Linked DNA regions of Homo sapiens. The protein of the gene in region 3 interacts with the protein of the main gene of each other region in a biochemical or structural test. Each region holds a gene or a part of one and is shown on either strand. Other genes may lie near its edges.

Region 1 (3,751 bases), on a different chromosome or scaffold from region 3:
ATAGTACGGCAGAAATTTTAATTTGGGGTTCAAAAGTTAGAGGGGAGAGACATAAAGGAAGATGGGAGAAAGTGACAATGAAGAATAAGGAGGACACCTGTACCATGTCCAGATCAAAGGACATGAGGGTATGGGAAAGAAAACACCTACCGCTTCAGAGGAAGCAGTGTCCTCAGGGGAGAATTGGACTTTAAGTTAGGACAAGGAGGAAGAAACATGCAGAGAGGTATTAAAGAAGAGTGAATGTTTAAACATTAACTCTTTTCTATCCATGAGGACAGAGTTAAACATTAATAACTCTCTGAATGTTTTTCATTCATCATCTCTAGTCATTGTCCTCTCTCCTTCCATTCACAGCCTAACAGTCCTATCAATACTAGTTCTTAAATTTCTTTGGAATCATCTCATTTCTCCAATACCATTGCCCTAACCTATTCCAAGCCACCAGCCTCCCACTTCTAGACAACTAGCAGAAAAACCTACAGCACCCTGAATCTTTCCCTATTCATAAAAAACAATGGAAAAAAAATAAGGAAGTCAGAGAAATATTTTTAAACCGAAGATATGACTATGTCATAGTCTTGCTTAAAATCTCTCAGAGGTCTCCCCAGTGGTCTTAAGTTAAAGCCCAAAATCCTTAACATGGCTTACAAGGTCTTCTTCCACAAATTGGCCACTAGCGACCTCTCTGGCCTCATCTCAAACCTGTCTTCCTCTCCCACTTCCCTGTTCACTCACTCAACAAATATTTAATGAGTGCCTATGGTGCACCATATACTGTGCTAAAGCACTGATGATACAATGATGAACACAACAGACACGGCTTGTGCCATACTGATCTTTCAAGTTTCTCAAAAGCATCAGACTTTCTAAAATCTAAGATTTTTCAAATACTGCTTCCCCTGTTCAGAATCAAATCTGCCACTTACTTTGCCTGCCTAGCTTCCCTTTAATCTTCAAATCTTAGATTTAATGTAATTTCTTCAGGAAGAAAAGTCTTCCCTGTCCCTTAGACTTGGTCAAACACTTAGCTATAGTACCCTGACTTTCCCCTTTATAATTATTAATAAACAAAATTATTTCTGTATTTTTTTCTACTGGACATTATAATCTCCATGAGGACAGAGATCATAGCTATCATGTGTTGTTGACTTGTGATAATAACTTTGCAATTACCTTTTCTTCCACAGAAAAACAAACAAACTTGTAGTTTAAGGATATTACCTTTCTTGAGGGGTTTGTTGTACCATCTATCTTTTTTGATGTCTGGAATGGTAATTCTTGCTGATGGATTCTCAACTAAGATTTTATGCAGCAGAGCTAAAAACAAACATTACGACAACATTCACGAAAGAATCATGTTAGAGAAGCCTATGGCTTGAGGTAAGAAACACATTTTCTGTTAGCCTACTTATGTCTAAATATTATTCCTGGGGAAGAGAAAGAATTAAAGCTACTAAATTACTGCTTTAATTTCATGCAGTTTTTCTCTGCTGCTGTATCTTGGAGTAGTCTTCCCTGATCTGATTCTCAATTGTTTGCAACTGAGAACAAGAGCCAGATGGAAATGTTTCTCCTCATGTGACGAGATTAACAAAAAGATACAGAAACCCCTCTTATCCATTTTCAATACCGAATTTCATTACTTCAATGTCATGTTCTCACGTGACCTCCTTATTCACACAGTTTTATAATGAACATTTACTTACCAATAACTTTTTAAGAGACAGTAATCTAACTAACCATCCTAAGGTATCTTAATTTTCTTGAGAAAAAATTCACGTATCTTCCTATGTGAAGATTATTTCCTAATGGACCAAAGATTTAAATGGAAAAATGAAGCCATAAAAACACTAAATGAAAACATAGGGAACTTTTAAATAGTAGAGGTAGAAGACCTTTCCAAAGAAATTATAGTCAGGGACCACAAAGGACAAGATAATAGATTTGAATGTCAATATAGCAAAACAAAATGAAAATAAATGATAAATTGTGAAAAGTATTTGTAACAAGTGCAAAGGTCAATGTGTTATCAAGGAAAAAAAAAAGCTTCAAAGTGGTAAGAAAAACAATATCCTTGACAAAAATGAGCAAAATAGACAAAAAACTAATACATACATAAAGGGTATACAACTTCATTAGTATTAAATTTAAAATAAAAATGAAAAACTATTATTTAAAGTTTTTTTCCTTAATGTAAATTGATGAGACTGTGATGAAATGGTTCGAACTTTCGGGAAGCAATTTGACAAAATAAGCCATAATAATAAAAACTACATCCTTGATCCTGCAATTTTGCTTCTGGGGATTTCAATGAACAATTTAAGGGTATGTGTCATGATTAAGTTACACAGATACTTATATCTCTTTTGTATCTGTGAAAATTTAGAAAAATCTCCAACAAAGTGATTAAAAGAGTAAAGTAAGGCATATCCACATGGCAGAATATTATCACAGCCTTTAAACCAACGATGTAGACCTACAATTATAGTCATGGAAGAATGTTCGCTGCGCACTAAAACCAAAAACAGTTACAAAATATTATTAGTGTGATCTCATTTTGTATAAAAACACATATAAATAATATACATATATTCATTTTACATACTTATGGGCCACATTAATGATGTTTCAGTCAGGAATGGACCACACGTATAACAGACAGTCCCATTAGATTATAATACTGTATTTTTACTATACTTTTTCTATACTTAGATACACAAATACCATTATGTTACAATTCCTTACAGTGCTCAGTATAGTAACATGCTGTACAGGTTTGCAGCCTGAGATCAATAGGGTATACCAAATAGCCTAGATTTATAGTAAGCTATACTATCTAGATTTATGTAAATATACTCTATGATGTTCACACAATGATGAAACCACCTAATGAAACATTTGTTAGAGTGCATCCCTATAATTAAGCAACAAACGAGTGTATTTGCAACAAAGTATAGCACATATGAAAACTTTAAGTAAAAAGCCATCTAAGAGCAGATTCAAGTTGCTCTGAATATACACTCCCCAAAATATTTTTAAAAATCTATTGCAGAGTTCTGGGACTAAAGAGTTATTTTTTCCTTAATTTTTTACTTATAGTTACTATTTTATCTACAACGAACATGAATTATTTGTAAGTTTAAAACAAAAAAAAAAGTAAGAAAAAATTCAAATAGCACAAGACTTCATATCCAAGAAATCGGTACTCTTTCACTCAAGATAATTCAGTTACCTAGAGGAGCAGAATCGATTTTTTTCCAAGGGTTGAGGTATGTTTTTTTTTCTTTCCAGTCAGAATACTCCTGACAGCTGTCACTGGGTTGGTCCCATGGCAATTCTAAAAACAAAGCAAGTCCCAGTTTTTTTAAATGTTCTTATTATAAAGATTTCAAGGAAAAATAATAATATAAATCCATGAAAAGTTTCCTTTGAATTAATTCAATATGGTTTTCACACTAAGAATCCCAACTTGGAAACTTTAGAGGCACTTCAAAGATAGATGAATCAGGATAGGCATGGCAGCTCAGGCCTGTAATCACAGCACTTTGGGAGGCTGAGGCAGAAGGACTGCTTGAGCCCAGGAGTTCAAGACCAGCCTGGGCAACATAGTGAGACCCCATCTCTACAAAAAATAAATAAAATTAGCTGGGCGTGATGGTGTGCATCTGTAGTCCTGGCTCCTCAGGAGGCTAAAGTGAGAGGATCACTTGAACCCAAGAGGTCAAGACTGCAGTGAGCCAAGATCACA
Region 2 (3,751 bases), on a different chromosome or scaffold from region 3:
GTCTCGCTCTGTCACCAGGCCGGAGTGCAGTGGCATGATCTTGGCTCACTGCAACCTCCGCCTCCCGGGTTCAAGTGATTCTCCTGCCTCAGCCTCCAGAGTAGCTGGGACTACAGGCGTGCGCCACCAGGCCCAGCTAATTTTTGTATTTTTAGTAGAGATGGGGATTCACCATGTTGGCCAGGATGGTCTCCATTTCTTGACCTCATGATCCGCCCGCCTTGGCCTCCCAGAGTATTGGGATTACAGGAGTGAGGCTCCACGCTGGGCCTCAACTAATGATATTTTCAATTTACAATGGGTTTATTGGGATGTAACTCCATCCTAAGTAGAGTAAGTAGAGGAGCATCTGTACAAAACAAGCTCCCTACCCTTCCACTATGTACCTAAGAGCAGGACATACATTTTCAAAGGTGTCCCACCTCCTCTTTCTACCAGGGACAAAAGTTAGTCACCAGAGACAACTTTAGACCCTTATCAGCCAGCGATGGCGCTAGAAGAACCTACATAACACACTTTACTCACTACCTGTAACTACCATTAGTTTCTCGTATCTCTGCCTTCCCACTCTGCTGTTTTTGGAAACTTCAAACTGCTTTCGCCATTTCTCCCCAGTTATTGTTCTTTATTGTAAATGCTACGTAATTCCCCCATTCTAAGCCACCTGTTTGAGTTACTCTTCCTTGAGTTTTGCCCATATAAGATGTACATGTTACTAAATTTTTCTTTTGCCAATCCGAGCTTTGTGATAAGGGCCGCAGTGGAGAACCTAGAAAGGTAGAAAGATTTTCCCCCCTTCCTACAGCCCCAAGGAGGGTTTGAGACACGGGTTCCGTTTTTTTCCTTCAGCTCCTCACTTTGTAGATTCCATTCAGGTCATTCCCCTTCCGTCACCATGCCCTTTTTTCATTGAGTAGATATATCTGATGGGCCTGGGGTTTTCTTAGGTACATTTCAGGCCCAGGGGAGACACAGTTTCATTCTTTTTTTCTTTTTTATCGGACAGCCTCCTGAACCAGAAGAGGTTCAGAGCGACTCCCACAGTTTCACTCTTGAACTTGGGTATTTTCCAAATTGCCTCAGCAAAAGGCTGCTGTAGTCGGTCTTCGTAGCTTCCTTCTCCAGGGTATCCTAGCGGCGCGCAGTGCAGGAGCCTCGCACCGCTCCCCGACGGCGGCTGCCAGCTTCCAGACAGACGCCGACCCGGTGTTCGCAACCAGGGCGCAGGCCGGGCCCGGAGCGTTTAGAGCGCCCGCCCCTCGGTAAGGAACCGTCCCTGAGCCACAGGGCCTGACGCGACTGCAGAAGGAGCGTGGGGTCCTCCGAGGTTCCCCTTCTCTAAATGTGCACCTTCCTCAGGGAGACCTTGTGCAGCTGAGGGAAAAGTCACCACTCAGGGTTTCGGGCCGGGGACCCAAATAAAAGTGCTGCCATCAGCAAAAAAAGAAAAAAAAGGCACGAAGAGGAGGTGGGCGGATTCCCAAGGCGGTTTCGCCCACTAATTTTGCCCAGAGATGACTCTGAGGTCTCTGAGCTTAATGCTTTTCAGCTGTTGTGCAGACTCGCTTTGCCCTCTTATAAGCCCACTATGGGAGTTCCCGCTACACGCCGGCCCAGGGGTACAAACGACAACGCGCCGCCCTTGGAGCGCGTCGCCGGGCCCCGCGCTGCGCAGCCTCCAGCGGCGCTGCGTGCCCTTCCTTTTGCCCGTCTCCAAGATGGCGGCGCCGCCGCCGCCCCTCCTCCTCGCCGCGCAGAGCCGCGCTGCGCCGCGCGCTCCCGCCGCCCCTCCCCACGCGAGCTCCACCCAGGTCGCAGGCAGCGCGGTCGGCGGCGGCTATTTCCCGCCATTGTGCGAAGTGAAGGCTAGGGGCCCGTACGCGCCCGCCTGACTGTCGCCAGCAGCTCCTCGGCGGCCCCACCGCAGCCGCCGCTCCCTGAGGCGCGGGAGGCCCGCGCCCCGCGGCTCGCTGTGCGTGGGAGGGCGCGAGCGAACGCGGGCGAGGAGCGGCCGAGCCGCTGAAGAGGAGCTGGGCGCCGGCCGCCCGGCCGCGCTCGGCCCGCGGATCGCCTCCGCCCGGTCTTCGCCGGCCCCGGCCCCTGGCGAGATGCCGTGTGGGGAGGATTGGCTCAGCCACCCGCTGGGAATCGTGCAGGGATTCTTCGGTGAGTGGCGGCGCCGGGGGGCGGGCCGGGCGGGCAGCCGAGTTTGCCGGGCCCCGGGGCAGGGCCCCGCCGCGCGGCCCCCACGCGGTACCATCTCGAGGGCTCGCGTGGCCCGAGACGGGGCCCCGGGGCCTGCACCGGCCCCAGCTGGGACAGCCTCTCCCCCGGTCGCAGCAGGCAGGGGCAGGAGCCGGGCCGCAGGTACCTCCCACCTGCCCGAGTCGCAGCTTGGGAGCCGCCAAGGTGAAGTCGTGGGGCGCGGGCTGTGATTCGCGGGCTGTGATTGACGGCCTCGCTCCCAGCCTGTGGCAGGGCCAGGGCCCCGGCCCCGGGCGCAGCAAACTCGGAGGTCCTCGAACCCTGGGGAGGGCCCGCAGAGCCGCGGGGAGGGAAAACCACTTTGCCTGTGGGAAGCCCACAGGATATTTCAAAACTTCCGGTGCGTCGGGGAGTGCTCGCTTGCACAGAAGTTGGTTCTAACTCCTGTGCTACCCTCATTCTCTCTTTCAGAGATAAGATTTAATGTTCATAGCTTAGTTTTCCTGTTGGGATGACTTTAGAACCCATCTAGTCTGGATCTGCTCCTGTGCCAGAGCCAGCAAGAAATATTGAGCTACTTGAGTTTGTACACAGGGCTGAGAATCCTGCAGGCGAGCTTAGTAAATTTTGGTTGCGATTGCTGTTGCTACTTTACTGCGAAGGGTATACGAAGAAAAGTTTATATTTGTTGTCGTTAACTGGGCATTTTGACAACCGTTCCATTCCCCAGTGTCTTTTTACACGTAATGAGTGGCGGAGTCAGATCCAGCTAGAAATCACTGTAGATGGCAACACCTGACTTGTCTGGAGTTAACTTAGAGTTGTAGAGCGGCCTTAGCTCATTGAAAAAAACATCTTGGGGTACTAGAGAGAAAAGGCAGTGGGAAGCTAAATCATCCTCAGCAGCCAAAATCGACGGCAAACAATGTATGGTATTTCTTATAGGAGGGCCTCTAGTGCTTACTCAGGAAGTCCTTATTAATTTACCTGTAATTCTAATTAGTTTAGTTACCTGGCTTCCCAGGCTGTAACTAATGGCATTATATTAGAAAAAAGCCTGGATAGACGTCCGAACTTAGCCAGTGAACACTGACAGCCTGATGAAGAAATTTAAAACTACCTTCATACTTGAAAAAAAAAAAAATTCACTATATAGCAGTCAAGGGTGCTTTGAGGAAGGGGCATATATTTCTCCACTAAATCCTAGTAATTTATGTTCATAAGAATTCTAGAAATGATAATCGATGGTCAACACAATGGCCCCAAAATGTCAAGTGAAGATTCAATTGTAGCATTGGTTTAAGAGGGTGCAGATGCATAGATACTTTTTAGGAAAAATCCCTCCAAAGTAAAAAGGTTTGGTGCTTAAAGGGTTAAATTTCAGTTACTAATATTAGAAAGTTTATTTATTAGAAATACCCCATACTCTGATTTTGCTGGATAAATGAGATGATTTCATATTTGATAGAGATTTGAATGTATTTGTGTCAAATTTTGTCTTCTAAATGTATGATCCTAAGGGACACATCTCATCATAGTACAGGAA
Region 3 (3,751 bases):
AATCCAGGCTGAGCGCAGTAGCTCATGCCTGTAATCCCAGCACTTTGGGAGGCTGAGGTGGGTGGATCACCTGAGGTCAGGAGTTTGAGACCAGCCTGGCCAACATGGTGAAACACCATCTCTACTAAAAATACAAAAATTAGCTGGGAGTGGTGGCGGGCACCTGTAATCCCAGCTACTCTGGAGGCTGAGATAAGAGAATCATTTAAACCCAGAAGGCGGAAGTTGCGGCGAGCTGAGATCATGCTACTGCACTCCAGTCTGGGCAACAGAGCAAGACTCTCTCAAAAGATAAATAAATAAATAAATAAATAAATAGGTAATTCAAGTTTAGATCAGTTAGCTTCACAGTGTGTTCCAAAGTCCTGAAGCAGATTCCTTGCCTGGGTCGTTTTACTTTACACTGATCCCAAGGAGCACACAGACATGTCCCACCACTAGAAAAGCAACTCTGGACCCTGATCTGAGTAGCTGTTCTTACACCTCCCTACCCCTCAATAATCACAGACTGATCTACCTTCACAGGAAAACGGTTTTTGAGAAGACACAACCCCAATACATGACCTCTGTAATATTTATATAGTGAGCCCTGTGAATTGGCACGACAGTTAAATCTCTGCCACATAATAGGAAAATTTAACCATTCAACATATATTTGATCCTGCTATGTGCCAGGTACCACTGTAGCTCCGGGGCAAAGTCTCTACCCTCACAGAGCTTATATTCCATAAGAGAGACAAACTAACCACTTAAATAAAGAATATACTGCTGGGCCATGTTAAACATTACGAAGAAATACAAGGCAGGGTGACAGCAAGAGCAGAAGGCTACTATTTTGGCAGGCTAGCAAGAAAGGTTTCTTTGAAGAGGTAACATTTGAGCAGACATTGGAGAGGAGGAGGATATCTAGGGAAATGGACAAAGGGTGAGTGCAAAGGCCCTCATATTTGGTGTGCCTAGGGATCAAGGCCAGTGTCACTGGGGTGAAATGGGTATGGGGAAGACTGCTGTGAAATTAGGTGAATGAGGGGACAGGGGTTACACTGTATAATAGTTCTGCAGGCCATGACAAGGAGGCTGAATTTCCTTCTAATGTGAGAGAAGCACTGGAAGGGAGGGTAGTAAAATAATCTGATTTATATTTTAAAAAGACTTATCTGGCTGCTGAGCAAGAAGCCAATACAAAAAAAGGACAATTTTATGAGGCTTCTGCAACAGTCCATGCCTGGTGGCTTGGGTGGGCTGGTGAAGGCGGTAAAAAGAGAAAAGAAAATATACACACACTGAAGCTGGGGGTCAGAGGATTTGCTGCTGAAGAGGAGCTGTGAGGGGAGAGTGGAATCAAGGAGTCAAAGACAATTCCAAGGCATTTGGCCTATAGCAATTGAGTAAGAACAACTCAACTGCAAACAGGGAAGAACAACTCTGTTTTTGAACACATTAAGCACGAGATGCCTGTTAAACGCTCATCAGTAGGCAACCAGCTCTATACATCTGGAGTTTACAGGAGTGGTGAGAGCTGGTGACATAAATGTGGAAGTCATCAGTAGATGGATAAATTCATAAAACCAAATGAGATCACTTAGGTAATGAATGTAAACTATCTGAGAGTAAAGTAAGAAGAGAAAGATTCAGGCCAGGCACGGTGGCTCACGCCTGTAATCCCAGCAGTTTGGGAGGCCAAAGTGAGCGTATCGCCTGAGGTTAGGAGTTCTAGATCAGCCTGGCCAACATGGCAAAACCCCATCTCTACTAAAAAAAAAAAATTAAAAAATTAGCCGGGCGTGGTGGCCGGCGCCTGTAATCCTACTTGGGAGGCTGAGACAGGAGAATCGCTTGAACCCAGGAGGTGGAAGCTGCAGTGAGCTATGCCACTGCACTCCAGCATGGGCAACAAGAGCGAAACTCTGTCTCAAAAAAAAAAAAAAAAAACAAAACCATTCAGGGAAAGAGACTAAGAGGGAATAACCAGTGAGAAAGAAGCCCCAGGAGGATACAGTGACTCAGAACCAAGTGAGGAAGACACTATTTGTAGGAGTGATCAACTGTGACAAAGCTGTGGACAGGCTGAGTACTGAGAATGGCCAGCTGACAGGAGTGGAGAGAAGGTATGTGATGGGCCTGTGAGAGAGTGAGGCAAAGAACTGACCCGGGAAAAGGAATTGCACTGGGCAGTGCTGTCATGAGGTTGATGAGACAGTAAGAACTGTCCACTTGAGATTTCTGGTCATCGATTTAAATAAGACTGGGCTCATAATTATATGCTTTTCTCCAGATACTTTCAGCTGCTTAGATAAGGATACAAAAAAAAAAAAAAGTTATATTTAACCAAGTTTGGGGTTTCGCCAAGCAAGTAAGATGGAAGATTGACTATTGGGTTGGGTAAGGTGGGAACTAAGAATGTGAGGAAAATGAAACATAGAAAGTAGGTGACAGCAGTACGACCAAGGGCAAATATGAGGATGGGAAACAGAAGCTTAAAACACCTAACTAGTAAGACTTCAATCCCACCTTCTGAGATTTAACCTAAATTCTGCTTGTTTCAGCAGAGGAAATAAGTCATTTACCTGCTGTTCATTCTCTCTTATTTTACAACTCATACTTCTGACTACACTCCAATGATTCAAAACAAACAAAGGTCAAAAAAAATTTCACTAGTGAACCTGCAGATACAGGGCATGAACTCCCTCCCTCCCTGATACCAGAGCACGCGCACTTCTGCACCTACATAGTGTGTGAGTCGATGAATAACTTTCTCTATGATTCTTTTTTTATTTATAAGTTCTTCTTCAGAGTCTATCTCTGATTCGATTTCCTTCAAGTACCAGTTAACAAGCTCGCTCCTCTTTAATGCTGACTCGTCCTCTTCTGCAACAAAAAAACACATTCAAATTATCCTAGCAACTCGTACTGTCAGTCCTTGGGTAAATCTCTGCCACATATACAACGAGATAATGTACAGATTAGATAAATGTCAAGCCGTCCGAAAGTACATCTGGTGACGTAAGGTCCGCAATGTTCTAGCATAAGCCTGAAATAACAAGTCATATCACTTGTATTAAAGCATGCCTTATTTTATCCATAAGGAGAGAAACCTAATAAAATAGATTATAAGAAATATGTTTCTTAAAGCTATTAAGATTTCAAAGTATGAAGGTCTTTTCTTCATCTTCTTATGCTTCACCACCTCTGAGAATGCTTGCCAACAGAAACTAAAAGCATAAATTAGGAATGAAGCAACAGCAAGCAAAAATTCTGAAATATAACAACTTTTCCTCTGTAGAAAGGGGAAGGCTTTATGGAACTGGAGTTTACTAAGAAGTAAAATTCATGAGTATTCACTCAAAATAAAAAATTACCTGTTTATTTTAGCAAGGTTCATCTTACTAAGTGAACTGCCTGCTGCTTTTAACAAGTCCAAGGTCTACCAGACTTTTAGAAAGTCCTGGTAAGAACCCTCAACACATAGGAAATGTTTGGACCTGGATAACATAACTATCATAAAACTCAACTTCTGCTGTGTTTAAAACTTACTTGTATGAGGGAGAAAGAGAATAATGACATATAACATGAATCAAGAACACCTTGAGTTCCCAAATCATTTTGTGTGAGACGCGAATGAGGACAAAAGCTGAGGCGTCCTAGTGGCCACTTTGTTGCCTTCTCTCCTACTGGTCTAAAGTTCCCAGGGGAACAAGGGCAGAAACTACAATCTCTTGTTCTCTTCTTTCATAGCAGAGCAAATACTGTG

Evidence for each region.
Region 1: the proteins of MCM6 (region 3) and CHEK1 form a complex in vitro, tested with the Homo sapiens proteins (2 studies listed by BioGRID, with this or other methods).
Region 2: the proteins of MCM6 (region 3) and MCMBP form a complex in vitro, tested with the Homo sapiens proteins (2 studies listed by BioGRID).

The regions. Positions count from the first base shown.
Region 1 is NC_000011.10:125,635,018-125,638,768, reverse strand, and holds part of CHEK1 (serine/threonine-protein kinase Chk1), read right to left. Parts: intron 3,341-3,751; coding exon 3,236-3,340; intron 1,321-3,235; coding exon 1,225-1,320; intron 1-1,224. UniProt on the Homo sapiens protein: Serine/threonine-protein kinase which is required for checkpoint-mediated cell cycle arrest and activation of DNA repair in response to the presence of DNA damage or unreplicated DNA.
Region 2 is NC_000010.11:119,870,942-119,874,692, reverse strand, and holds the start of MCMBP (mini-chromosome maintenance complex-binding protein), read left to right. Parts: upstream 1-1,849; 5' UTR 1,850-2,108; coding exon 2,109-2,166; intron 2,167-3,751. UniProt on the Homo sapiens protein: Associated component of the MCM complex that acts as a regulator of DNA replication.
Region 3 is NC_000002.12:135,841,817-135,845,567, forward strand, and holds part of MCM6 (DNA replication licensing factor MCM6), read right to left. Parts: intron 2,869-3,751; coding exon 2,729-2,868; intron 1-2,728. UniProt on the Homo sapiens protein: Acts as a component of the MCM2-7 complex (MCM complex) which is the replicative helicase essential for 'once per cell cycle' DNA replication initiation and elongation in eukaryotic cells.